Linked DNA regions of Homo sapiens. The protein of the gene in region 5 purifies or fractionates together with the protein of the main gene of each other region. This does not show direct contact. Each region holds a gene or a part of one and is shown on either strand. Other genes may lie near its edges. The genes, in order: LETM1, RDH11, GNPDA2, RAP1B, CABCOCO1, UBLCP1 and RMDN1.

Region 1 (3,500 bases), on a different chromosome or scaffold from region 5:
CCCTTCTCTTGGCCACGCCCTGTGCTGGTGCCTGGTTCCCAATGCCATCAAATTGAGTGGCTTGTAGGTCGGAAAGTGACAGCCCCAGCCACTCACTCTTACATGGAAAGGTTAAGGGGTGCAGGGCTCCAGCCGGTTTCCTCCCGGTGCCCTGGCACTGGCATGCCCTTGTTGGCAGTCATCCTCCTCCCGGGTTTTTCACACAACCTGCAAGTGTAGATGAAGGTGTGTGTACACACTTCTCCTCTCGACACAGACAGTATTTATGGCGTGATCCTGTGGCACCCCCTGCCTTCCACAGCCGCGTCTTCCATCGGATTCCCCAGCAGAGCCTTCTCTGTGTCTGGCATGGGTGCTGACCTCCCTAGCACTCTGCCCAGCCTTCTGGAGCTCCGTGGGGATATGGGCCACACACACAGGGGTGTCTGAGCAGGGGGGCAGGTGCTGTCCCTGCCCAGGCCCCTCGGCCCCCAGGGGAGTGTGGCGCATTGGGGGCCCGAGTGTCATGTGTTCACACTTTTCCTTCTCTACCCACCTCTCGGTGGTGCCTTTCTTCTCTTAGGGTTTGTTCTCATATTTTCTCTACCCACTTCTCCTCAGCGTTGCCTTTCTTCTCTTAGGGTTTGTTCTCATGTTTTGCCCCGTGTTCAGTTTGTCTCTAAACATTGTCACGGTCTTTCTTGCCCATTTGGAGATTGTCTTGGTGTTACTCAAGCAGCCAGCCCCGGAACCTGGCCTGTGCAGAGCCTGCAAGGGCCCGAGTGCTGACCGGCCTCAGTGACACTGCCTCTGCGGGCCCGTATATGTTGACCTGGGCTGGTCTTGTTTCTTTGTTTGAGACAGAGTCTTGCTCTGTCACACAGGCTGGAGTGCAGTGGCGCGATTTCGGCTTGAAACAACCTCCGCCTCCCTGGTTCAAGCAATTCTTGTGCCTCAGCCACCCAAGTAGCTGGGACTACAGGTGCACACCACTATACCTGGCTAATTTTTGTATTTTTAGTAGAGATGGGATCGCCATGTTGGCCAGGCTGGTCTCGAACTTCTGACCTCAGGTGATCCGCCCACCTCGGCCTCCCAAAGTGCTGGGATTACAGGCGTGAGCCACCGCGCCCGGCCCCTGGGGTGTTTTTAAGTGAAGAGTTGGTGCCCTGTTCTGAGGCCCTTGGGGTCCTCGCTGTGGGGGTTGCTGACCCCCAAGCCTCTCTGGTGTTTTGTTTACTAACGCCGTCATCGGGTCACGCAGCACAGCAACAAACAGACCTTGTAGAACTTGAGACACTGTCTTCTCTGAGAGCTATTCTGGTGATGAGATGGGCGGACCTGCTGTGGGGCCAGCAGGGTTGGGGGGCTGCCCATCTGCTGAACCTGGCCTTGGTTGCAGTGGCTGGACCTGCACCTGCATCAGGAGATCCCCACATCGCTGCTCATCCTGTCCCGGGCCATGTACCTCCCGGACACCCTCTCTCCAGCCGACCAGCTCAAGTCCACACTGCAGACCCTCCCAGAGATTGTGGTACGTGCTGTCGGAGACCCCTTTTACCTCATCTCTTCATAGGTGGCTCCGCTCTTCTGGGGTGGGGGGAGGTGTGCAAGCGCACTCATTCCTCAACCATGGGCGAGGAGCCTGCCTCCCACCCCCTCGCGAGTGCCCCCACCCAGCCACCTGTCCCCTTCCTTCCATCCCTCCTCACCAGCCCCTTGCCTGCCATCCCCCGTGTGGCACAGTTGCCAGTGGTCCCGACCTGGCCACGTGTTGGCTGCTGTGGATCTGGGCCGCGGCCCTTGGAGCTGTGTCAGCAGCGCCTATGCTCCTTCCCACATGTCAGGAGTCATCGGGCGAGCGCAGAGGGCGGCCCAGGGGCCTCCCAGCAATTGCGGGCAGCACCTCGGCAGTGCCTTCTGTCCTGTGTGTGTGAAGCCCAGGTGGTGACGGGGCAGGGGACACAGGACACAGGACAGAGGTGAGGGGCAGCAGGGGCCTCTGGTGGCTTCTGGGCTCACCCACAGATGTACCCTCTTCTGAAGGCAAAGGAAGCACAGGTGAAAGTGGCCGAGGTGGAGGGCGAGCAGGTGGACAACAAGGCCAAGCTGGAGGCCACGCTGCAGGAGGAGGCGGCCATCCAGCAGGAGCACCGTGAGAAGGAGCTGCAGAAGCGCTCGGAGGTGGCGGTAAGCGGTGGTCCTGCTCCGTGCCGCGTGGGGCTGTCCTGAGCCAGCCTCCCTAGAAACCCCCGCACGCCCACAGTCTTGGCCTCCCGCATGCTTGCCCTGCAGCTCTGTCCTGCATGTTTATTTCCTCCTGGAGTGGTCAGGGAGGCAGGGTGCCCGGGTGTGAGGGCTGCAACTCTGACATGGGGACTCCCCGATGGCCACAGTGGTGCTCATGGGAGATATACCTTAGCCGTCTCAGAGGGGCAAGCTTAGCATATGGCAGTGCCCACCCTCTCCTCAGGGACTTGCTGTGAGGGGCGCTGGCAGAGGAGCTGCAGGCTCCCCCAGCCTCTGGGCTCCTCTTCAACGCGGGCCCTGTGGTCCTCTTGGGTCACATGCATGGTGCCCACCCACAGGCTCAGCCTCCTGCTCTGCAAGTGACAGGGCAGCTTGGGGGAGTCTTGGGGAGACCAGAGATGGATAAGGTGCTCTAGCCTGTTCTGGAGAGGGCCCCAGGTGACCTGGCAGCTGCATGGAGCCTCCCTAGGGACCTTCTGTGGCAGGTGTGCTGCCCAATGTCACCTGCAGGCCTGCTCCCAGTGTGGCCTCTGCCATATGTTCTGAGCTTCGGGGAGCAAGAAGACTGCTTCTGTGTGATGGCGGGCGCTGGGCTGGTGTCGCCTTGCCTTTCAGAAGGATTTTGAGCCCGAACGTGTGGTAGCTGCTCCCCAAAGGCCGGGGACCGAGCCACAGCCAGAAATGCCTGACACAGTCCTGCAGTCAGAGACCTTGAAGGACACTGCCCCGGTGCTGGAGGGCTTGAAGGTAATGAGGCAGGTTCTGGGGCCCTGGAGGCTGAGGAGGGCATGGCCTGGCTTTGTGGACAGTTGTGGGGCAGGGATGGGGACAGGTTAGCTGGGGCATCTATAGCCCTCAGTGAGAGGAGATGGTGCAAGGGGTTGAGGATGAGGCCACTGGGCCCCTAGGAGGCTTGGTGGTTAGGAAAAGAGTGAGTCCGGCCGGGCTCCGCACTGTGCCTGGGTGCACAGCAGCTGACGCTGCCGTGAACTTAGCACCCTGGCCCACAGTGTGGCAGGTAGAGATGCCAGTCGGCAGGTTTCAGGGCCCTTTGCCAGCTTGCCCAGACAGTGAAGGGGTGTGGAAGCCAATGTGGCCCCTCAAGGTAGAGCCTCCTCCACAGGCCCAACCTGCTGTCACCTCCTGTGGGGTGATCTGGGCTTGGAGCATCTTCAGACTCCCCATGCGAGCCTGTGAGGTGCAGCCTCCAGGCGCCTGTGCTGCCTACCTGGGGCGCCTCCTGGTACCTTCCATCTTGAACTCGCGGGCTG
Region 2 (3,500 bases), on a different chromosome or scaffold from region 5:
GCACCCCTGTAGTCCCAGCTACTTGGGAGGCTGAGGCAGGAGAATCGCTTGAACCTGGAAGGCAGTGGCAGAAGGAAGATCATGCCACTGCACTCCAGCCTGGGCAACACAGCAAGCCTGTCTCAAAAAAATGAAGGGGATGGGGTGGGTGTGGTGGCTCATGCCTGTAATCCTAATACTTTGGGAGGCCAAGGTGGGAAGATTGTTTGATGCCAGGAGTTCAAGACCAGCCTGGTCAACATAGGGAGACCCCATCTCTAAAAAAGAAGGGGGTGGTCAACGATGTTAAGTGCTGCTGAGAGGATGAGTCTTGGCTCTGCTGATTCCTGACTTGAGTTTCCAGTCAGAAATACACAGAGGTCCTTAGCACTGTCTACTCTAGAGCCTTCTTAGATCTGTGAGATGGAAGTATAAATTACTGTGAGCAGTACTTCTGATGTCACCATGGGCAAAAGAGTCCATATGTGAAGGTCACATGCTTATTTACATCCTTTTCTGTTTTGGGCTATTCTGCAAAATCAAGTCCTGTCTTACCCTCTCTTCATGCCACCCCCAACCAGGCTCTGGCGTTACGACGTATTCTGTACACCCTGGCACAGTCCAATCTGAACTGGTTCGGCACTCATCTTTCATGAGATGGATGTGGTGGCTTTTCTCCTTTTTCATCAAGACTCCTCAGCAGGGAGCCCAGACCAGCCTGCACTGTGCCTTAACAGAAGGTCTTGAGATTCTAAGTGGGAATCATTTCAGGTATGAATGTTATCTCTTTTTGCAGATGAGATTTATTGCTCAAAGGAGATAATTTGGGTTTGTCTGGGTATACCCTTTTTTAAAAGTACATTGTCTCATATAGCTTTTGTCTTTTAACTCTAGAGTTTTTACCTTTTAGTAGGGGAATTTGACTCTCTTTTGTAATAACTGCTACATTTGATTTTATGCCATCTTTTATACTGATAATTATGCATTCTGTTTGTTTTCTTCCTGTCTTTGTTATGTCAGTCCAGTTTTCTTTATTCTTTTTTGGATTCCTAATTCTATTGTTTTACATTAAAAAGAATTTAAAAAGAATTTGAGGCCAGGCGCAGTGGCTTACGCCTGTAATCTCAGCACTTTGGGAGGCCAAGGTGGGCAGATCACCTAAGGTCAGGTGAAACTCCGCCTCAAAAAAAAAAAAAAAGAATTTGAATCTGCATTTCTCTATTGTCCTCAGGATTGAAATACTATGGACTCCCCTCTCAAATAAGCGAAGACATTTAAAATGATTTAAATGTAGAGAATTTTGAATATAACACAGGGTTAGATAAAATAGTGCACTGAGCCTGCATATAATGGAGCCTCAGCTACCATTAACCCATGGCCAATTCTGCCCTATCCCCATTCTCTACCCCTTTCCATATTTTTCTTCTCCCATATTATTTTGAAGCAAATCCCAGGCATCACATAAGATCAAAATTTTAACATGTTTTTACCTCTACTTCAGGTTATTGTTGAAATGACCTGAAATTTTAAGGAAGTAGCTGAAAATAGCATTAAGATTGGAAAGAAAGGCAGACAGATTATGAGAGGCCTATAATGCCAGCCTTGTGGAGGAGCCCCAGAGTTGTTTCAGTAGACAGACAAAATCTGGTCTGTGCTTTAGCAACTTTGTTTCATGAATGAATAATTAACCTAGTGAGAGAGAGAGTTTCAGAAAGTTGTAATGAAAGGAATGGTAATGTGAAAGAGGCCCTGAAGCAGCAGAATTTTTATCACTGGATGATTAATTAAATGAGGGGATGAGGGAGGCTTTGCTAACCTGAATTTCAAGCCTGAATGAGGTTGATGATGACATTAACTAAGACAGCAGACATGGAAAAGTAATGTGTGGAACTTAGGGTTCTTGGATTCCAAAGCAGTTGAAAGGGACTTTGTCTAGCTTAAGCAAGAAGGAAATTTATTAAAATATTAGTAGGGAGAGGAGGGACCCCTAGGTTGAAAGGGAAGACTGAAGAGCCAGGCTAAGAAGTGTCAGAGTGGCAGTCAGCCAGCCGGGGCATTGCTGCTAGAGTGAGCGAATGCCAGCTATCTTTAGTGTTTAGGTTGTATTGCTTATCATCCATTCTCTAGGGAGGAAGCATTGGATCTCCTTCCTCCTATCCCTTCATTTTTACTCTTTTGATTAGAGGCAAACAGGGACTTTATTAATGCTCTCTTCAAACTATATTGAGGGGAAAAGGTGATTCTGCAGAAGGAAATCAGGTTGCTATTGCCGAAACAAAGTAGAATGTTCAGCCAAAGAGTAACAGTTGTCCACTGTGTAACAAACCTGGCTCTGTACATGTTGCATGTGTGTTATCTATAAGGCATGCAAGTAGAAATGTATAGCAGATAGTTGGAAATGTGGTTCTGAAGTATAAGAAGATAGATTTATATAGTATACTGGATTGATTTTCCAAGAGTGACTGGATTCTTCTTCCCTAGAGATTTTAAGAAAAAAAAAAATAACCCTTTATCTTGGTTTTGACTGAGTGGTTTAAAGAAAGTCAGCTCTAAATCCATAACTTACTATTGGATTGACTTTTGAAGAGCCTTTCCTGTGCTATGGATTCTTAATTCATTTTGAAGATCCAACAGCAGCCGTGTAGACCACCATCAAGAAATGAACATAAAAGTCTTTTGATTGAAGCCTTAAGATTTTTGCACTGGCTCTTCTTTCTGCCTGCAACCACTAGTCTGCTTTATGTCTCTAAGAATTTGCCTTTACTGGACATTTCATATAAATGGAATCATATGGTATGTGGCCTTTTGTGACTGACTTCTTTTACTCAGCTTAATGTTATCAAGGGTCATCCATGCTAAAGCATGTGTCAGTACTTCATTTCTTTTTATTGCTGGATAACATTTCATTGTATAGATTTGCCACATCTTATTTATTCATTCATCAGGTGATGGGCATTTGGGTTTGCACTTTTTAGCTATTTGAATAATACTGCTGTGACCATTTGTGTAGAAATTTTTGTGTGGACATTTCTCTTGGGTACATGGAAGTGGAATTTCTGGGTTATATGGTAACTGTGTTTAACTGCTGAGGAACTGCCAAACTTTTCCAAAATGACTGCCCCATTTTACATTCCCACCAGCAGTCTATGAGTATTCTAATTTCTTCACATCCTCAGCAACACTTGTTATTGTCTCTCCTTTTGAGTTTAGCCATCCTAGTGAGTATGAAGGAATATCTTGTTTTTATTTTCATTTCATTTTCCTACTAATGATGTTGAACATTCTTTCATGCGCTTTTTGGTTCATTTGTTTCTTTGTTGGGGAAATGTCTATCAAGTCCTTTGCCCATTTTTAAGTTGGATAATTGTCTTTTTATTGTTGAGTTACAAGAGTTCTTAATAGTCTAGATGCGAGTTCCTTGTCAGATATATAATTTGCAAATATTCTCTCATTCTGTGGGTTGTCTTTTAACTTTCTTAATGGTATCTTTTGAAATGTAAAACTTAAATTTTGATGAAGTC
Region 3 (3,500 bases), on a different chromosome or scaffold from region 5:
TTACCAAATTCCACTTGTAATTTATATATGTGTGTGTATATATAATCTACAGTTAAAAATAAGTTTTTTCCTTTGTAATGACAACGTGGTTTTCTATTATCAGTGTAAACTATCGCAGACAGCTAGCTAATTGCTATAAGAATAGTTCAACATCAACTAAACTAAAATCAAAATTTTTTGCCAGATTCTTTAATATTCAACTAAAAATACTAATGCTGTAAATTATCTGTATATAACTTATTATTAACTTAATAGAACACTGATCAAAATTACATGAATTTGATCTTCAATAGAGCTGTCCTGAGGTTAATTTATACTTGAAGTGGCCAAGTATGGTTGAGATAGTTGATTATCATTGGGGGAAATTTGGTTTTAAAGTCAGACGTAAAATTGTATCCTGTTTTAGCCACTTAGTATCTGTATGACCTGGGAAAGTTTATTGAAGTTCAGTATAGGTACATCATTTGTAAAAGAGGATTAATATTAAACATTCCAAAATTTGTGAGAATTAATCATGTTGTAACATGTATAAAATGCCTTACACAGTGCTTGGTATATAGTTGGTACTCCATAAGTGCTACTTCAGTCTTCTCTTTCTCTCTCAACTGTAAATGCGGAAATAATTGTCCCTTAGAATTACTGAATTCCTTGGGATTTTTACCGAATTCCCTCTAGGGACATCCAGGAAGACTGAAATCTTCTCTTTAAGATAGTTTTTACTTCTACCTAGCAGAGTCAATAACATTTACTTTCTTGATAGAATGGTTGTTTATTGGAGCAAGAAACCAAGTTAGACTATTGCTTTTCAAATTAGAAGGTTATCTGTTTTAAATAAAATTTACTAATATTACTTCAGTAATCCTAGAGAACATTTGCATACTCCTGCTTTGTACGTATGACTCAATTTTGAGATAATTAACCATTTGTACCTTCCAATATTCAGGCTAGACAGTAGATATTTGAGAGTGTCTGAGGGGTGCATAGACCATCTAATCTTTAGATTTTCTAAGCTCCACACCAAAATCTGGTAGAATTACTGGAGTACCACATACTTCAACTGCTTATATCAAAAAATGTTTTCACTCATTTACTATAATGCAAAAAAAGGCTCTTAGTTGTTTGAGGTTCATTATTAAAAGTGGCTGCTTGAAAATATCTTCATTTGTAGACTTTCTTTCCCCCTTGTTAATTTATTGACCTTACATAAGTATGCATGTGACAAATCTCTTGTAGACCCAAAGGTAGGAAATAGATTTTACTATGGGGAATAACACTGATAAGAACACTTGATTTTATTCCTTTGCCTGCCTTCCAGAAAGCATTCATAGCATAAAATAATGTTTAAGCCTGTAATTCTTATCCAAGATGTCTGGTAGAACTTTCCTCTTTCCTTATAACTTTAAATCATTTCGTACTTCTTTTCAGCTAATTTTTTTTGGGAGGGGGTTATGTTTCTTCAGTATAAACCACCTCAGTTCTCCTTTTGAAATAGATGTTGCATAAGTTATAATTATATATGTTTATCACTGACACCACTAAAAAGAATTTGACTTGGTTTTTTAACCAGTTTGTCTTAAGCTTCCTGTAGTTGTTTCCCCGCTCCTCCCCGCTCCCAAATATATTTTAAGAGAGTTCCTGTGCCTCTTACATTAACATCTTCACTGTAGTCATGGATGATCCAATGCCTGACATTTTATATGTACCATCTAAAGGACATAATTGTGCAGAGAGAGAGAAGGATTATTGCATTTTCTTTGAACTTTTCCTTATTTGGGATGCCCTATTATTGGATATGTATTCATGAAAGAATCTCATTTGTTGATCTAGGTTTATCATCATTGGATTTTTAGATGAGGATTGGCATCTGGGTCTTACAACTACCCTTCTTTTGTTCCAGGGTTTGGTTAATAAAAACTCTAAGAACTGTGCCAAATGGGATCAAAATATCAGCTTTATTAAAGGTAAAGTTGAAATAGAGATTGCAGTTTGGGCTTGAAGCCAGAATGGGGTTTTTCACTCCTGCCCTTTGAATTGGAAACAGTAGAATGAGAAGAGCTCAAAAATGTTAATCTGCTATTGCTCATTCCAGGGAATTAGAGCAGAGGTCCCTTTCCTCTGAGGGAAGAGGGAAAGAAAAAGGAGGAAATACATACTCAAATGTTCTAATTCCTCCTCTGATGGCAAACGTGTTCAGAGAAAGGGTAAAAGGTGTATCATGCAATTCCTGACTTAACCCCAGCAATAAGATATACAAACATGGATTTTTAAAAATAAAATCTAGGGCTGGGATCCGGTGGCTCACACCTATAATCCCAGCACTTTGGGAGGCTGAGGTGCGCAGATCACCTGAGGTTGGGAGTTCGACACCAGCCTGACCAACATGGAGAAACCCCGTCTCTACTAAAAAAAAATACAAAATTAGCTGGGCGTGGTGGTGCATGCCTGTAATCCCAGCTACTCGGGAGGCTGAGGCAGGAGAATCACTTGAACCTGGGAGGCCGAGGTTGTGGTGAGCTGATATCGTGCCATTGCACTCCAGCCTGGGCAACAAGAGTGAAACTCCGTCTCAAAATGAATAAATAAATAATTTTAAAAATCTAGTTTTACAATAAAATCTAAATATATAAACTTTTAAAATATCTTAACGCAGTAGTGTCTTGGGTTTTTTGTTGTTGTTGAGACAGAGTCTCGCTCTGTTGCCCAGGCTGGAGTACAGTGGCTTGATCTTGGCTTACTGCAACCTCCACCTCCCAGGTTCAAGCGATCCTCCTGCCTCAGCCTCCTGAGTAGCTGTGACTACAGGCACTTGCCGCCATGCCCGGCTAATTTTTGTATCTTTAGTGGAGATGGGGTTTTGCCACATTGGCCAGGCTGGTCTCGAACTCCTGACCTCTGGTGATCCACCTGCCTTGGCCTCCCAAAGTGCTAGGATTACAGGTGTGAGCCACTGCACCCGGCCTAATAGTGTTTTTAAAAAGTAAAAATAAAAGAAGACAGTGGAGAAAATGTTAACCTTCTGATTTGGTTGCATGCTTGGATTCTTTGCTTTGGTAGAAAAAGGAAATAACTAATGGGATCAAAAGTAAATTAACTGGAATGATTCTAGGGTAACTCACAAACTGAAGGAAAAGTTAAAACAACCAAGTCTTTGGAAAAACAGAGAACCTCAGATCTCAGAAGTAGAAACTCATCAATCTTCTCCCTGCAGTGCTGTCATCCAGTGCTTCAGTTCACCATGCTGTCTTCGTTAACTGTATCCCTGGTCAAGATTCAGATCCAGACAGATATTTTGATTGGCTCAGCCTGAGACAAGTGCTTATCTCTAGACCACAGTCACTTTACCTAAGAGGGATATAGGAAATTAAAATTGTTCCAGCCCCTCTGGTGAGGGGAGCAAGGCAGAAGAGAACAAGGTGGGAGGTGGAATAAACTATACCGAGCTGACCAAAGAATAGCAACCATACATTCATTTATCCAGCCATTATTTAATAAGTGCGTCC
Region 4 (3,500 bases), on a different chromosome or scaffold from region 5:
AATGTGGAACCAGACCGGTGCGGTGGCTCACTCCTGTAATCCCAGCACTTTGGAGGACTGAGGTGGAAGAACCGATTAGGCCAAGGAGTTTGACACCAGCCTGGGCAACATGGCAAAACCCTGTCTCTACAAAAGTTAGTTGGGTGTGGTGGCATGCGCCTGTAGTCCCAGCTACTTGGGACGCTGAGATGCATCAACTGAGCCCGGGAGGTCGAGACTTCAGTGAGTCGTGGTTGTGACACTGCACTCAAGCCTAGATGACAGTGAGACCTTGTCTCAAAAAAAAAAAAAAGAAAAGGAAAATAAAATTTGGACTTATCCCATGAGTTTATAAAAACAGTTTAACAAGGATTGCTACAAATGTTTTTAAATTAACATAAAAAAGAAGGCCACAGAGTGGCTCTACCCAGCACTTTGGGAGGCCGAGGTGGGCGGATCACCTGAGGTCAGGAGTTCGGGACCAGCCTGGCCAATATGGTGAAACCCTGTCTCTACTAAAACTACAAAAATTAGCCAGGCATGGTGGTGGTGCCTGCAATCCCAGCTACTTGGGAGGCTGAGGCAAGAGAATCGCTTGAACCTGGGAGGAGGAGGTTACAATGAGCTGAGATTGCACCATTGCATTCCACAGTCCATCCTGGGTGACAATAGAGAGACTCAGTCTTAAAAAAAATAAAAATAAAAATAAAAAAAAATAAAAAAATAAAAAAACCACCACCACCAAGAAACAGCATTCTCCTGAAAGGTAAAAAAAGGATCATTCTACAGGTGTGTTTTTGAAAAGTGTCTACTTAAGGTAAGACAACACACCAAATTCTCAGGTCAAAAAGACATTACTAAACTTGAAACTTACAGCTTTACTATGGAAAAGTTATCAAATATTTTAAAACTGAGAAAGTCAACTACTAAAAATCTACTTAAGGATTATGTTAGACTTTGGACACAAGGGAATTCTGTCTATAGATGAGCAGTCAGGTATACAAAACAAATATTAAAACCAAAAATAGGCTTAAAAATAACTATTATCTAATCCATTACCAAGACCAAAAGTTGAATGGAATGCACAGAGAAGACTACAAAGAAGTTAAACTGATTATATATTAATAGGAGATTTTAAGATAAAGCACATGAAAACATTGCTTCACATTTATCTATGGCTCCCATTCCTGTTTCCAACAAAAATATAAACAAAATAAATCAAAGAAGACATTAAACACTGAGAGCAAAGCATGGAAAAATAAGTAATACAAAATACATTAGACAGTTGGGAATATTTTAATAGCATTTTCAGATAAATCTGGATACTGGTCTTTGACACTACACCAAAGCTCAGCAATTGGTTGCAATATGGAACAGGATACCTTATTGATAAACTTTTATGTTCTCTATAACATTAAAATCCATTGGTCTAGCTGACACTTTGTAAAGATTTCTTACCCATGTATGATTTTTATAATACTATGCATTGATCATTTGGAAATACTGACTCAGTTATGCAGATAATCAAATAATGACAGATTTCATTATATACTTACAGCAGCTGATACAAGCTTTCTAAAATTTTTGCTTAAAATCTAGGAACTTTATCATCGACCATAAATACTACCACTATTTTCCCTAAAGCAAAGCCTCACTGTTTTCAAGAAAATGTCAGCCTAATGCCCAAGTCTGGCATTCTTTTAAGCAAAAATGGCATTATATGAAGATTGATTCAGCGTGTGACTCAATCACACAAATACTTTCCCTAGAAACAACCATTATATTTCAGTATGCTGCCAAGTGTTTTTGTTTTGTTTTTCGAGACAGGGTCTTGCTCTGTCACCCAGGTTGAAGCGCAGTGGCACGATCACAGCTAACTGCAGCCTCCAACTCCTGGGCTCAAGAGATCCTTCCACCTCAGCCTCCAGAGTAGCTGTAGATGTGCATGACCACACTAACTTTTTTTTTTTTAATAGGAGAGACAGGCTCTCACTACATTGCCCAAGCTGGACTTAGCCTCCCAAAGTGCTGGGAGGCTTGCTGTCCATGGCCTCGCCAGTGTTTTAAGCATACTTCCCATTTTGTTACAGTATATTAAAGATGTGTACAAAGGTAGAGATTTAGTTTAAAATTTTTTTACTTCTTCATCAAGAGCATTTAGGTGAAACTTAAAAAAAAATCTGAGTGCATGGCAGTGAATAATACAATGATTACTAGGACAGTGAAGTACTCTAACCTGGTTTATTCTAAAGCGCCAGAAGTTTTATCCACCACTGTTTTTATACTACAGGTACAAATGTCACTACAAAGAAAACGGCAAAGAATGTCTCAGTATTATAAAAATAGTTTTGCACTTGTAGACTCGCCAAAAATGTCTAGGGGACCTCCAGGATTCCTTGGACCATACCTTGAAAATACTGATCTAGGTAATTCATTTGTTACACTAATCAAAACTCACAATTATTTATTAGTCCTTATTCATACTTTAATGGGATTCTTAAGCAATGCCATAGGAGAATAAAAGCTTTATAGGGCCAGGCAAGGTGGCTCACGCCTGCAATCCCAGCACTTTGGGAGGCCGAGGCGGGCAGATCACAAGGTGAGGAGTTCGAGACCAGCCTGGCCAATATGGTGAAGCCCCGTCTCTAAGAAAAATACAAAAAAAATTAGCCAGGCGTGGTGGCGCATGCCTGTAATCCCAGCTACTCGAGAGGCTGAGGCAGGTGAATTGCTTGAACCTGGGAGCAGAGGTTGCACTGAGCGAAGATTGTGCCACTGCATTCTAGCCTGGGCGACAGACTCCACCTCAAAAAAAAAAAAAAAAAAAAAAAAAGCTTTATAGAACAAGAACTAATACAGCTGGGTATGGTGGCTCATGCCTGTAATCCTAGCAGTTTGGGAGGTGGAGGCGGGCAGATTACTTGAGCTCAGGAGTTCAGACCAGCATGGGCAACATGGTGAGACCCCGTCTCTACAAAAAATACAAAAATTAGCTGGGCATGGTGGCATGCGCCTGTAGGCCCAGCTACTTGGGGAGCTGAGGCTGGAGAATGGCTTGAATCTGGGAGGTTGAAGCTGCAGTGAGCCAAGTTTGTGCCACTGCACTCCAGCCTGGGTGACAGAGTGAGGCTGTCAAAAAAAAAAATAGTACATTACTGTATTATTTTATGGTTTATGAAACATTCATGAGTAATACTGCATTTGATCCTCAACAACTCTAACAACAGTATGTCATCATTCTCACTGAGGAGGCAAGGAGGTTGGAAAGCTTCAGAAGGAAAGTACACATTTTGCTTTAAAAAAGTCATTGTAGTGATGGCATTACGGATGATACTCATTTTCTTCTTTATACTTTTCTATATTTTAAACATTGGTAAGAACGTCAAAAAGACATATTTGAACTCAGCCAATCTTATAAATACAAATCAGTACACTATCTCAAGTTTGTTAATTTCAAGAGCAGTAGGAGAAAACAACAGATAACATATGTTATATATCTCATCCTATCCCTCAATTCAAGA
Region 5 (3,500 bases):
ATGTATAAAAATAGTTATAAAACTAGCTTTATTTAATTTGTTTCAACTATTCATAGACTTGAGGAAATTATAACGTTCTTTCAGAAAATCTAACTTAATAAAGCTGACCATGTCTCTCTGTTTTTAAATAGATTTTATTACAGAACCAGTGATGTTGTAAAACATGAGGTTTTGTTAAAAAAAAAAATACAAAGGCCTAATTGTATTTTTTAAAGAAACTATTGCATCAGACGGTTTCATTTAAACGTATTTTCTGGCTCTGGGCTCTCACCACAATTATTGATTCTAATTTTCCTTAAACTTGCTTTTTAAAAAGGCTACCATTTTTAATGTGAAAAAAATCACTGTGATGCTTCTGGGCATTATGTTTATTTCAAACCATATATTTGATAATGTACTTTATTATTATTAATGAAAAGACTTTATATTTACCCTCATCTGAAATTGGGACATTTCTTTCCCTTGCAGTATCTCACTAACACAGCTAAGTGTAATTCTTCATAAAGGAGAAAAACTGAGCTAGGGTTTGGTTCACTAATAGTATGCAAAACACCCTGAAGAAAAGAAATTCTCACCCCCCAGTTTTTGTGCACCAATTAAATCAAATTAATAGTTATATGGGCTACACTCATAAAAATCAAGGCAAAGAAAAGCTCAACTCTCAGTCAGAACTTCAGGTTCTTGGGAGTTTCACTCCACCAAAGAAATGATGATGTGGAAGCTGGGAAGTTCCAAGTTTCCAAGTGTGTGCCCAGTACACACACACACACAGACACACACACACACACACACACACAGTGCCAAAGACCAGGAAACTGGGTAGTTGGTGAGTCATTCAGATGAGCCTTATAAAGAAATCCAGAGGACAGGGATGTGAGGGAAAGAAATGAGAGAATTGGACACAAATACCTGCTTACATTTAAGTGTATAATGTGATGGGGAAATGGGTACAAGTAGAAAAGGGCCAGTGGTAGAATCTGCTACTACCAGGCTAGAGAGGCAACCTATTGAGAACTTCCACAGGGGGTGAGGGCAAGTGAGCAGGAAGGCCTAGCCTGTGTATGGCCAAGCTTAGCAACAAGACAAATATGGTGACAGTAGACCAGAAAAAATTCTACTGCATTAAAAACAACACTTTTACCTTGCAGATTATCTCAGTGCCTGCAGTAAATTCAGTAGACTCCATTCAATTCCTTTCTCTCTTCTTTTCAACGTCTCACTCATCCCCACCACCCCCACTCCAAACTTCCTGTTCCTTGGTGTATATTAAAGTCTATACCACTAAGTAAATACCTCATCATCTTCCCTTGTCTCTGATTCCCATGTGCAGCTTATTTATTTTACCTATAATGTTTCAGAGGCCGCTAAAATATGTTTAGCTGTCTCCTTTTCCTAGCTTGGTAAAATAAAGAGCAATAGAAGGTAAAGGAAGGATGAAAAACAAGAGTGCTGAAAAAAGGTACAAATCATTTCGTGGGAAGGTGAAATTCTTGTTTGCCCCATTTAGGAAAAATGCAATGGCTCGTGGAAGTGCATAAGAGAAAAGAACTGTTCTGATATGTTTTCTCAATATTCTATTTTGATTAACATTTAGTTGACTTAAGATAAACAATCTGGAATGATGTCACCTAACAGAATAAAAATTAAGTGCTTGATAATAGCAATAATTTCCAAATATGGCAACTTAATGACGTATTACAGTTTACTGAAAACCACAAAGGACAAGAAGTCAGCACACCAGGGTTTAATTCCCAGCCCTGTCAAGAAGTAATTATTTGACCTTAGGCCAATCATTTAACCTCTTGGTTTCCAAATCTTTTTGCCTATAAAGTTAGGACACGTTGGGGCTTCTATATATTTACACTAAGCAACAACTTTGTATAAAATCAAGTTAAAATTAATAATATTAATTCAATGCAAAACACATAAGCATTTGTAAGACCAAAAACAAACCTTAGCTTCCAGCGCATTTCAAAACTTATCTAAATCAAAAACATTAATATTTAAATGATGACATGTAACATATTTATTTGAAATATTGTAGAGACATTAAAAATGAATGCATTATTATTTCATTGGGTTTTTTTTCAGGCTTCACAGGATGATAATTATTTCGTGAATTTATGCATTTTCAAAATTTTGTCTTCAAACTTATGTTTGAAGCTCTAATCTCAGGGCCTGACTTTGTCAGCATACTGTGGGTGGCTTCATCCCTGGGCCACAATAACAAGCTCCTATAAAGCAAAACAATTTACCAGTTTACAATGAGGCATGTAGTAGGCATGAAAACGAGAACCCTCAAGTGGGCACGTCTCTACAGATCAATTGGGATGGGAATTGAAATTAAAATCAAATGTTGCTTATTAAACATGGAATTAGAACAACTAATTAAATGAATCAAATGTTTAATGTTATTAATACCCTCATCTCCCCTTTCCCTCCCCCAAGTCAGAGTGAGATGAGCACTGCCAAAGTTGGCTTCCTTGACTCTCCTTTTCCTTCATTTCCAGTGTTAACCAACCGTCAGCCTCCTTCTGAGTGGCACGCTGTTGCTAAAGAATTGTTAAATACTCATAGTGAAGTCTTGCCTTGCCCTGTGTGTTTTTGACAAATCTCCTTCCTGATCTACTGGCTTCATATATTAATCTTTGCAGCCCTTATTGTCTTCATCACCAAGTTCTTGATGGCCACTTCAGCAGCTACATTCTGCTGAGTAATAGCAGTCCCCATCAGGATGACATTAAGTGTATTAAACACCTAATCCTCTGCCAGAACTAGAGAAGATACACAGAGCATCTAAAACTTGGTTCTCCACCTACAGAGGGCTTGTAGTCAGGAGAAGGGGGATACTGAAGCACAAAACAGTTAAGAACGAGGAGATACTACATGAAATCCTAAACCACAGAGTATCGAAAGGAAATGAGACAGTGGGAAAACAAAGTGTTAATTTTGAGAAATGGAGCTCAAAAAGCACTAGAGGACAAAAAGGGCAATGGCATCAAAAATTCAAAGGAGGTGGCACTTGAAAGATAACAGACTTGGAACTATGGTACATATATAACGGAACTGACCGAAACTGTGGTTGCTCACCAAAGGCTCTGTCATAATTCAACTTTTTTCTTCCCATCAGCAAGTGATAGAGGTTGTCAAGTCTGCATGTGGCCCTTTCCCAAATCCTCTGGAAGAAGGAATCTCATTTGATATTTATTCAACATTCATAGAGCCCCCCACAATATTGGATACGGAAATGAAGGTATATTTCTTTTTGTCTTTCCATTCACCCTACCTCATCATTATATTCTCTTGGGGTGGGAGGAAACGAACTAAATGTTTTCTTCATTTTCTTTGCCTCTGATTTTTCCCAACCAAATACAAATATTTCTCTAAGTGTTGATTCAAAGATGAGTCCGCTGATGGTAGTTCAGCAATTTTAATCTTTTCCACCCTACCCTTCCTAATCTCCACCTTCACTTTCCCCTGGGCACCACATTGGTACCATG
Region 6 (3,500 bases), on a different chromosome or scaffold from region 5:
CAACAAAAATTGCTGTGACATCTGTACCAAACCTTTTAATGTTAGGGTTTTATATAATGGAATAGTGAAACCAGCACCTGAACTTTAGTGAGAAAACAGTCATTTGCTTGTATTGTAGGCAAACCTGCAGAAAATGATGTTAAGCTTGGAGCTCTCAAACTGAAACCAAATACTAAAATCATGATGATGGGAACTCGTGAGGAGAGCTTGGTAAATGTTTACTTTTTGTTACCATTTGTCCATTTGAAGATATTATGATTTATACTACACTGTTGTATTATAGTTTTAATTGTGGTAAAATTGTCAGTCTAGCAATCAATGAAAAATAAAACCCGCACCGTGAATGTGTTATTAACTGTATAAGTATAGTAGTAGCACAAATGATCAAATTTAATATGGTAAATCTGCCCAGGAAACATACATAACGAATTATTAATTGTGGAAATTTTCCAGTATGGGCTTAAAAGACTCTGGAACTCAAATTGTATCTCTCATTTTATTTTTATGCTATGCATGTATTTGTTATATTAAGGATAATATGGTAGAACAAAACTTTTTCCATCTTAATAGGAAGATGTCTTAGGTCCACCCCCTGACAATGATGATGTTGTTAATGACTTTGATATTGAAGATGAAGTAGTTGAAGTAGAAAATAGGTAAGTGCTTTTCGCTTTAGAAGTAATCAGTTGTCATGTGAGAACAAGTGAATATTTTATCTAATTATATGTTTTCCATTAGGGAAGAAAACCTACTGAAAATTTCTCGCAGAGTGAAAGAGTACAAAGTGGAAATTTTGAATCCTCCCAGGGAAGGGAAAAAGCTTTTGGTGCTAGATGTTGATTATACATTATTTGGTAAGTCAGTTAAGAATGCTTTTCATTTTCTGTTACCCACAACAACTCTTTTTTTCTTTTCTTTGTTTTTTTTTTTTCTTAGCAACTCATGGTTCTCGTGAAATACTTGAAAACTTTTCTTATTACAAAAGTAAATTGCTCATTGTAAAAAATACAGATAAGCAAAAAAAAAAGTCATCTGTAATCCTGATACCCAAAGATGACCACTCTTAGTAATTTGATATATATCTTTTAGACTGTTTGTATGGATCTCCTCTAAATCTTTTATTTAATAACACATTGAACATCTTCTCAGTAAAATATTGTTTATTATGAATGATATATATATATGTGTGTGTGTGTATATATATTTTTTTATTTTTTTGGCCAGAAAGTATTCTAGTTTATGGATGCATCATCATTTAACCATGTTATTCCCTGTTGATTATAAATAATTTTTTATAAGGAATATTTTAAAAATTATGTTTGATATTTTATCACTAGTTTTCTGTTTAGTTATATTCAAGCAGATTCTTGAATTTAAAATTTCTCATGTAGGCCAGGTGCAGTGGCTCACATATGTATCCTGGCACTTTGGAAGGCTGAGGTGGGAGGATTGCTTGAGCTCAGGAGTTGGAAATCAACCTGGGCAACAGAGCAAGACCTCATCTCTAATAAAAACTAAAAATACTCGCTGGATGTGGTGGTATGCACCTAGTCCCAGCTACTTTAGGAGGCTGAGGTGGGAGGATCACTTGAGCCCGGATTAAGACTGCAGTGAGCTATGGAGTGCCACTGCACTCCAACCTGGGTGACAGAGTAAGACCCTGTCTCAAAAAAAAAGAAAGAAAAAAATGTTTTGTGTTCATTGAAAAAGAAAGATGTTCCTTTTATGTCTAATGTTGGCAAGAAATAGTTAACTTCTGATACTGGAATTTATTTCTAACCCTAAACCTAAAACATAAGTTAATGTACAGTTTTTAAAAATTTAATTAATTGGTTAATTGGCCTGTCATTTTGATGAAATGTGATTATATCTGCAAGGTAGATGACTAAAGGTGAGTATAAGTGGACATAGTTTGTTTTTCATTATTAAAAAATAACATCTAAACTTTAGAGACTAGGTGAGAAAAAAATTTTCAGTTTACTACTTAAGCCTGAATTTTCAGTATTGCTTTTTGCAAATTGAACAAAATTGATCGACTAAAATTGGATCTTAAGGATTTTAAATTGTGTTTTGAAAGACATCTTTTTGTCAGCCAACGTAATTCAGTCTGAAGCAGTTTGCAATGAAATGTTTATGTTTGCATTTCGTAATATATTACATTTAATAATAATTGGTATTAGGTACTTGTTCATGATGGTAAACTAATAATTATTTATGATCAATTTTCTTTTAGACCACAGGTCTTGTGCAGAGACTGGGGTAGAATTAATGCGGCCATATCTTCATGAATTTCTAACATCTGCCTATGAAGATTATGACATTGTTATTTGGTGTAAGCTGTATTTTTTTGTTTAGATTTCCGTGGAAATAGGTTGTTCCATATATTATTGTGCTGTATAAAATGTGACTTAAAATGACCTGTGTTTAAATATGAAATAGTTTTCATTTTTTAGCAAATTTCTAAAATGAAGCATGTATCACAATATAAACTTAAACATATATTGGCCAAATACCAGTGAGATAGTTAATTTAACTATAGGACATGAGTACATTATAGTGTAAGAATAAAAATGACTAATTTTCCCAATGACCCCACCTTGATTTGAAGTTTTTCCTTCTGATTTTTTTTTTTTTTAACTAGGCACATATCTTTAGGGTCTCGCTGTGTTGCCCAGACTGGTTTTGAACTCCTGGGCTCAAGTGATCCTCCTGCCTTGGCCTCCCAAAGTGCTGGATTACAGGCATAAGCCAATGTGCCCAGCCTTTCCTTCTGATCTTTGCTGTGAAATTCTTGATGCTTCAGAATATTTTTCTTTTCTCCTTTTTTCCTGACTCCAGTTTTAAAATACTTGGAAAAAGGTGTTTAAAACAAAATCACAGTGATATAGTTCTCTGGAAATAAAGGCAACTTGAATTACTTAAGGAAAAATTAATATGTGGACTAAAGCCAGTGACATTGAAATTGTGGTCTGCGGACCATTTCAAGAATGTACAGGTCTGTGATAAGATACTGAGTTTGTTCCAAGAAGTAAATATACTGTAATCGTAAGCACACTATTCAGTTCAATTAACGTTTTTTGGTAGCAAGATTTTCTTGGAAAATGAAGCAATGCATTGATTTACATCCCTCCTCCCCACAAATATTTAAAGTTGCCTCTTGGCAATGTCATAAGCAGAGAAGAGTTATCCTGACTGAATTAAATGAAGTCCCATCAAGTAAAGGTGCTACATTTCATTGTACTAGGTCTTTGAGAGAAATTATGTTAGTTGTTGCAGTCTGTAAATTCATTTTGTATTTTTCCTTATAATCAGAGTACTTCCGTTGTTTGTGATATGTGAGTTCCATGTGAGTTCACAGCTGTTAAGATTAAAATTATTGTCAAAATATATAATTTTCTGGTTTAGTAAGATAAGGTGAAGAAAGCTTGCTGGTTTGTTTAGCAACTTTGACATCTAAGATGATATTTGAGAAAAAAGTTTATCCTTTAAATGTTATTAAA
Region 7 (4,005 bases), on a different chromosome or scaffold from region 5:
TTGGGAAAAAACAGCTAGGTTTCAGAAGTTGGGAAGGAGATCTATATATTTTTAAAGATAGACTTTAAAGACATAATCCTAAAGAAATACAGCTGATTTAATGGGACTAGTGGAGGTAGCAATCATATAGTAGAAGGAGCACTGGACTCAGAGTAGAAAGACATGGATTCCTGTCTTCTAACATATCCTTGGTTAGGTTAATACATCTCTTTGAGTTACAGTTTTTTCATTTGTAAACCTGGGATACCACTTACTTCACAAGGTAGTTCGGAAGATCAATACGACTATGTATTAATTCCCTATACAGTATTAAAAGTACCATAGAAATGCAACCTAATTTTTTAAAACCATGACTCGCCTCCCTTATTACCCATAAGATTTTTCGTTAAACCCATATAGTAGGTACTCCCTTTGCAGTCTGTGTTTCCACCCACCCTGATCAGGCCTCAAGTAGGATCCAAAATTTCTTCATTTTCCCACAAAAGAATTCCACTCGAGCAAGAAATTTTATTTTACTCGAGTAAAATAAAATACTTTGCTCGAGTAAGTAAAACATCTTATTGAAGAATTTTAGGGGAGACCAGGGTTTGTTTTTGTTTCTGTTTTTTACTACACATGCCCTAGCATTCAAGGGCATCAGTATCCTTTCCAGAGGCCTCCTCCCGCTAGTTCCTCTTCCCAAAACGCTTTGCATTTTTTGTTTCTTTGCTCTGGACTCTCTCTTGAATCTACCCCCTTGAGTCGCTCAGTCGAAGAGACTGAGACTTTCCCTTCTTCATGTTGGGCAACATAATTCTTCCAATTATTTACTTCCAAAAAAGACCCACTAGTACCAAGATTCAATCTACTTTTGAAGGCAGCAGATAATTAAAATGACAATTTTTTTTCTGGCATACTTGTATTCTCGGGTCTATTTCCGAGCTTTCAGTTCTATTCTGGCGACGAATCCTTGTGCCCAAACCATGAAAGACCCCCTAGAGAGATGGAGCAGAAACAAGTCAGAGCGCCTGAAGAGAGCGCTCTCACGGCCTCAGTCCTGGACGCAGGCGCGGAAAGTCCATTAAGTCCCACCCAATCGGGGTATTTCCCACCCCCTAAGCCCGTGCACCGGAAACCATGGGGGCGGAAGAGGTGCTGGGCAGGAGGCGGAAGAGGTGCTGTGCAGGAGGCGGGCGGGCGCGGTTCTTTCCGGAAGGATTGAATCTCCTTTAGCCCCGCCCGCCTCCGTAGCTGCCTGAAGTAGTGCAGGGTCAGCCCGCAAGTTGCAGGTCATGGCGCTGGCTGCTCGACTGTGGCGCCTTCTGCCTTTCCGACGTGGAGCCGCCCCGGGGTCTCGTCTCCCTGCGGGGACTTCGGGCAGCCGCGGGCATTGCGGCCCCTGTCGATTCCGCGGCTTCGAGGTACCCCCGTGGTCCTGGCTCCCGCTCCTCACTTCCTACTCAGTGGGTTCCGGCTCCCCCTTAACTTAAGTGGTGGCGGCCCCGCGCTGCCTAAGGAATGTGGTGAACCGAGGAAAGAACTCGGGGCCACTGTGCCTGGAACGCCCGGACAGGTCCCTTCCATTTTGCAAACCTCCACTATCCTTAACTGGGGCTGTCAGAGAAGGAGTGGGGTTTGCCCCCACGCGCCCCAGAAGCTGCCTGCTACCCGCCCTTCTTGTGCGAAATGTAAAACAGGACGGGAAAGAACCTTGACCGCTGTGAAATTATTCTCCCTGTAGGCGATGACAGATACAACAGCGCTTGAGGCTGCCCCTTTCAGACTTTGAAAAGTGTGGTGTGTGATTTAAAAAGTTCTACGACTCAGAAGCAGAGATTTCATACTGTTTAGGTTTTTGTTTAAAAATGTTTATTTCTCAGTTGCCCGTTGTATCTGCATAACGTCAATGAAGGTTGTCGGCATGTTGTAGTCTCAGTTCTGGTATTTCTATTAGACTGCTCGTGGGCCTCTGTTTATTCTTGTCAGGGAATTGGAATGGCATTAATGCATATGATATATTTCACATGAACTAGGGGTTTCATTATTTTAAACTCAAATTTTTAACTGCTCAGTTAAAATCTTTCAGAATTATTATGGGACTGATGGTGGGGAGGGGTGGTTAAAATTTGGCATATTCCCCTTCCTTGGAAGTTTATAACCAAATGGGGAGGTTATAGATAATATAGGCAGAGAGATGGGAGGAGTTCTAAGTATGAAACTAGTTAGCCGTAAGTTTTCAAATTGGAACAATGATGAGTTTGAAGTCCCATTTTAGGCCTGGCCCCTTGGCTCAGCCTGTAATCCCAGCACTTTGGGAAGCCGAGGCGGAAGGATTGCTTGAGTCCAGGGGTTTGAAACCAGCCTGGGCAACACAGTGAGACCCTGTCTCTACAAAAAAATTTAAAAGTTAGCCATGTACATTTTTATATGTAGTAATTACTATATATGATAATCTTGTCTGTAAGATTCATTTTTATTATGTGTTGGTGTCTCATATTTTACTTCATACAATTTGCAATATCCATGCATTTGCAAATAAGTTGTAGCAAATAAGTTGTAGCTCTTCCTTTCCAGCAGGAGTGTGATTTTTAGATGAGCGGCGACTCCAGGGGATATCTTTTTCTCAATAAGATACGCTTTGAGATAGTTTTACTAAAGATTTTGATGAAGTAATTTTTAAGCTTCCAGTATTATGATCGATTGCTTTGGGGGTGGGAGAAAATTCATGTAATTTTTGCTTGGGGTAGCAGTACCTTCAAATTTTCAAAGTTTGTAACTCTTAACATAATTGTTTCCATAGGTAATGGGAAACCCAGGAACTTTCAAAAGAGGCCTTTTACTCTCAGCTTTGTCGTATTTGGGTTTTGAAACTTACCAGGTTATCTCTCAGGCTGCTGTGGTTCATGCCACAGCCAAAGGTAAGCATAAATTAGATATATGGAACATTTAGAGTTTTTTTGTGTGCGTACATTCAGAATTTTTATTTTAAAACAAAGAATCAGGGTAATGTTAATAATAGAAAATCCATATGGAAATATTCACAATCTGCTCAGTGAGAAATGGGAAAACAACTTCCCTGCCTAACTGCCAACCTACTGTTTGAGGAGCCAGAAGTTGACGTGAAGTTGGAAGAAGGTCACCTTTTCCAGCTAAACCCCACTCCATAGCTATGTGCATTTTTATTTGAAGTCTCCGTGACCAGAGGAAACAGTGAGAACTGAGAACCAAGATACCGTTATCAGCAAGGGTTTGGCTAAAGGGTCTGAGATGTGTAAGCACCAAGAAGGGGAAGGGAAATTGAGCAACATATGAAAAAGGGGCTGTAGGAACACAGAAAAAATAAGTCAACAATAACCTATTTCCATCCAGAGCAAAGGGACAGTGCACACATATTCATCCTCTCAAGTGTGGGCTACACTGTACATTGACTCATACTATCTCGAACATGGTCTGTTGGAAAGATTGAGACCCCCTAAGGGCACTTGGCATAGGACCACAGTGACATGGTAACAGACATAGACAAGCATGGCATGACCCTAAAGGCAACAACACACCTTTAGATAATAATCGTTCAGAAAAAAATCCCAGAGCTGAGGTTATAAATTCCAAGTTAGCTATAAACATTCTTTGGGGAATTCCTTTAAAGATATGAGTTAAAATAAAACAAAATCAACACCTAAAATCTCCTAAAGCACAAAATGGAGAAATAATGAATCTCTACCAAGAACTGATTATTTTAAGTTTCTCATTTGGATGGCTCTCCCACCAGATAGGTGGTGGGATTACTTCAAAAGTAATGAGTCTCCTACAAGGAGGAGTTGTTTGGTCCAGTGAGGGGGAACAAGCTTTCTAGAAATAACTTTCCCTTCCCTTGACTCCATTCAAAATTAGAACCCATCAACCACCATTAACTACAATGCCCATATTAGTTAATAATCCTAGATTTCAAGTACTACTACATGTAAACTATTAAAAGAAAAAAGTTCCAAAGGAAATCAATAACTTTATTATGTAGGCATATGACTT

The links.
Region 1: the proteins of CABCOCO1 (region 5) and LETM1 purify together in Homo sapiens (affinity purification with mass spectrometry; one large-scale study listed by BioGRID and IntAct). This does not show direct contact.
Region 2: the proteins of CABCOCO1 (region 5) and RDH11 purify together in Homo sapiens (affinity purification with mass spectrometry; one large-scale study listed by BioGRID and IntAct). This does not show direct contact.
Region 3: the proteins of CABCOCO1 (region 5) and GNPDA2 purify together in Homo sapiens (affinity purification with mass spectrometry; one large-scale study listed by BioGRID and IntAct). This does not show direct contact.
Region 4: the proteins of CABCOCO1 (region 5) and RAP1B purify together in Homo sapiens (affinity purification with mass spectrometry; one large-scale study listed by BioGRID and IntAct). This does not show direct contact.
Region 6: the proteins of CABCOCO1 (region 5) and UBLCP1 purify together in Homo sapiens (affinity purification with mass spectrometry; one large-scale study listed by BioGRID and IntAct). This does not show direct contact.
Region 7: the proteins of CABCOCO1 (region 5) and RMDN1 purify together in Homo sapiens (affinity purification with mass spectrometry; one large-scale study listed by BioGRID and IntAct). This does not show direct contact.

Annotation. Positions count from the first base shown.
Region 1 is NC_000004.12:1,821,657-1,825,156, reverse strand, and holds part of LETM1 (mitochondrial proton/calcium exchanger protein precursor), read left to right. Parts: intron 1-1,381; coding exon 1,382-1,513; intron 1,514-2,025; coding exon 2,026-2,169; intron 2,170-2,844; coding exon 2,845-2,976; intron 2,977-3,500. UniProt on the Homo sapiens protein: Plays an important role in maintenance of mitochondrial morphology and in mediating either calcium or potassium/proton antiport. Mediates proton-dependent calcium efflux from mitochondrion.
Region 2 is NC_000014.9:67,682,265-67,685,764, reverse strand, and holds part of RDH11 (retinol dehydrogenase 11), read left to right. Parts: intron 1-560; coding exon 561-750; intron 751-3,500. UniProt on the Homo sapiens protein: Retinol dehydrogenase with a clear preference for NADP. Displays high activity towards 9-cis, 11-cis and all-trans-retinol, and to a lesser extent on 13-cis-retinol.
Region 3 is NC_000004.12:44,713,057-44,716,556, reverse strand, and holds part of GNPDA2 (glucosamine-6-phosphate deaminase 2), read left to right. Parts: intron 1-1,897; exon of another isoform or gene 1,898-1,961; intron 1,962-3,500. UniProt on the Homo sapiens protein: Catalyzes the reversible conversion of alpha-D-glucosamine 6-phosphate (GlcN-6P) into beta-D-fructose 6-phosphate (Fru-6P) and ammonium ion, a regulatory reaction step in de novo uridine diphosphate-N-acetyl-alpha-D-glucosamine (UDP-GlcNAc) biosynthesis via hexosamine pathway.
Region 4 is NC_000012.12:68,617,399-68,620,898, reverse strand, and holds part of RAP1B (ras-related protein Rap-1b isoform 1 precursor), read right to left. Parts: intron 1-3,500. UniProt on the Homo sapiens protein: GTP-binding protein that possesses intrinsic GTPase activity. Contributes to the polarizing activity of KRIT1 and CDH5 in the establishment and maintenance of correct endothelial cell polarity and vascular lumen.
Region 5 is NC_000010.11:61,756,929-61,760,428, forward strand, and holds part of CABCOCO1 (ciliary-associated calcium-binding coiled-coil protein 1), read left to right. Parts: intron 1-3,130; coding exon 3,131-3,253; intron 3,254-3,500.
Region 6 is NC_000005.10:159,269,790-159,273,289, forward strand, and holds part of UBLCP1 (ubiquitin-like domain-containing CTD phosphatase 1), read left to right. Parts: intron 1-118; coding exon 119-210; intron 211-570; coding exon 571-656; intron 657-738; coding exon 739-854; intron 855-2,233; coding exon 2,234-2,332; intron 2,333-3,500. UniProt on the Homo sapiens protein: Dephosphorylates 26S nuclear proteasomes, thereby decreasing their proteolytic activity. Recruited to the 19S regulatory particle of the 26S proteasome through its interaction with 19S component PSMD2/RPN1.
Region 7 is NC_000008.11:86,505,887-86,509,891, reverse strand, and holds the start of RMDN1 (regulator of microtubule dynamics protein 1), read left to right. Parts: upstream 1-1,205; 5' UTR 1,206-1,271; coding exon 1,272-1,400; coding exon of another isoform or gene 1,401-1,442; intron 1,443-2,779; coding exon 2,780-2,897; intron 2,898-2,944; exon of another isoform or gene 2,945-4,005.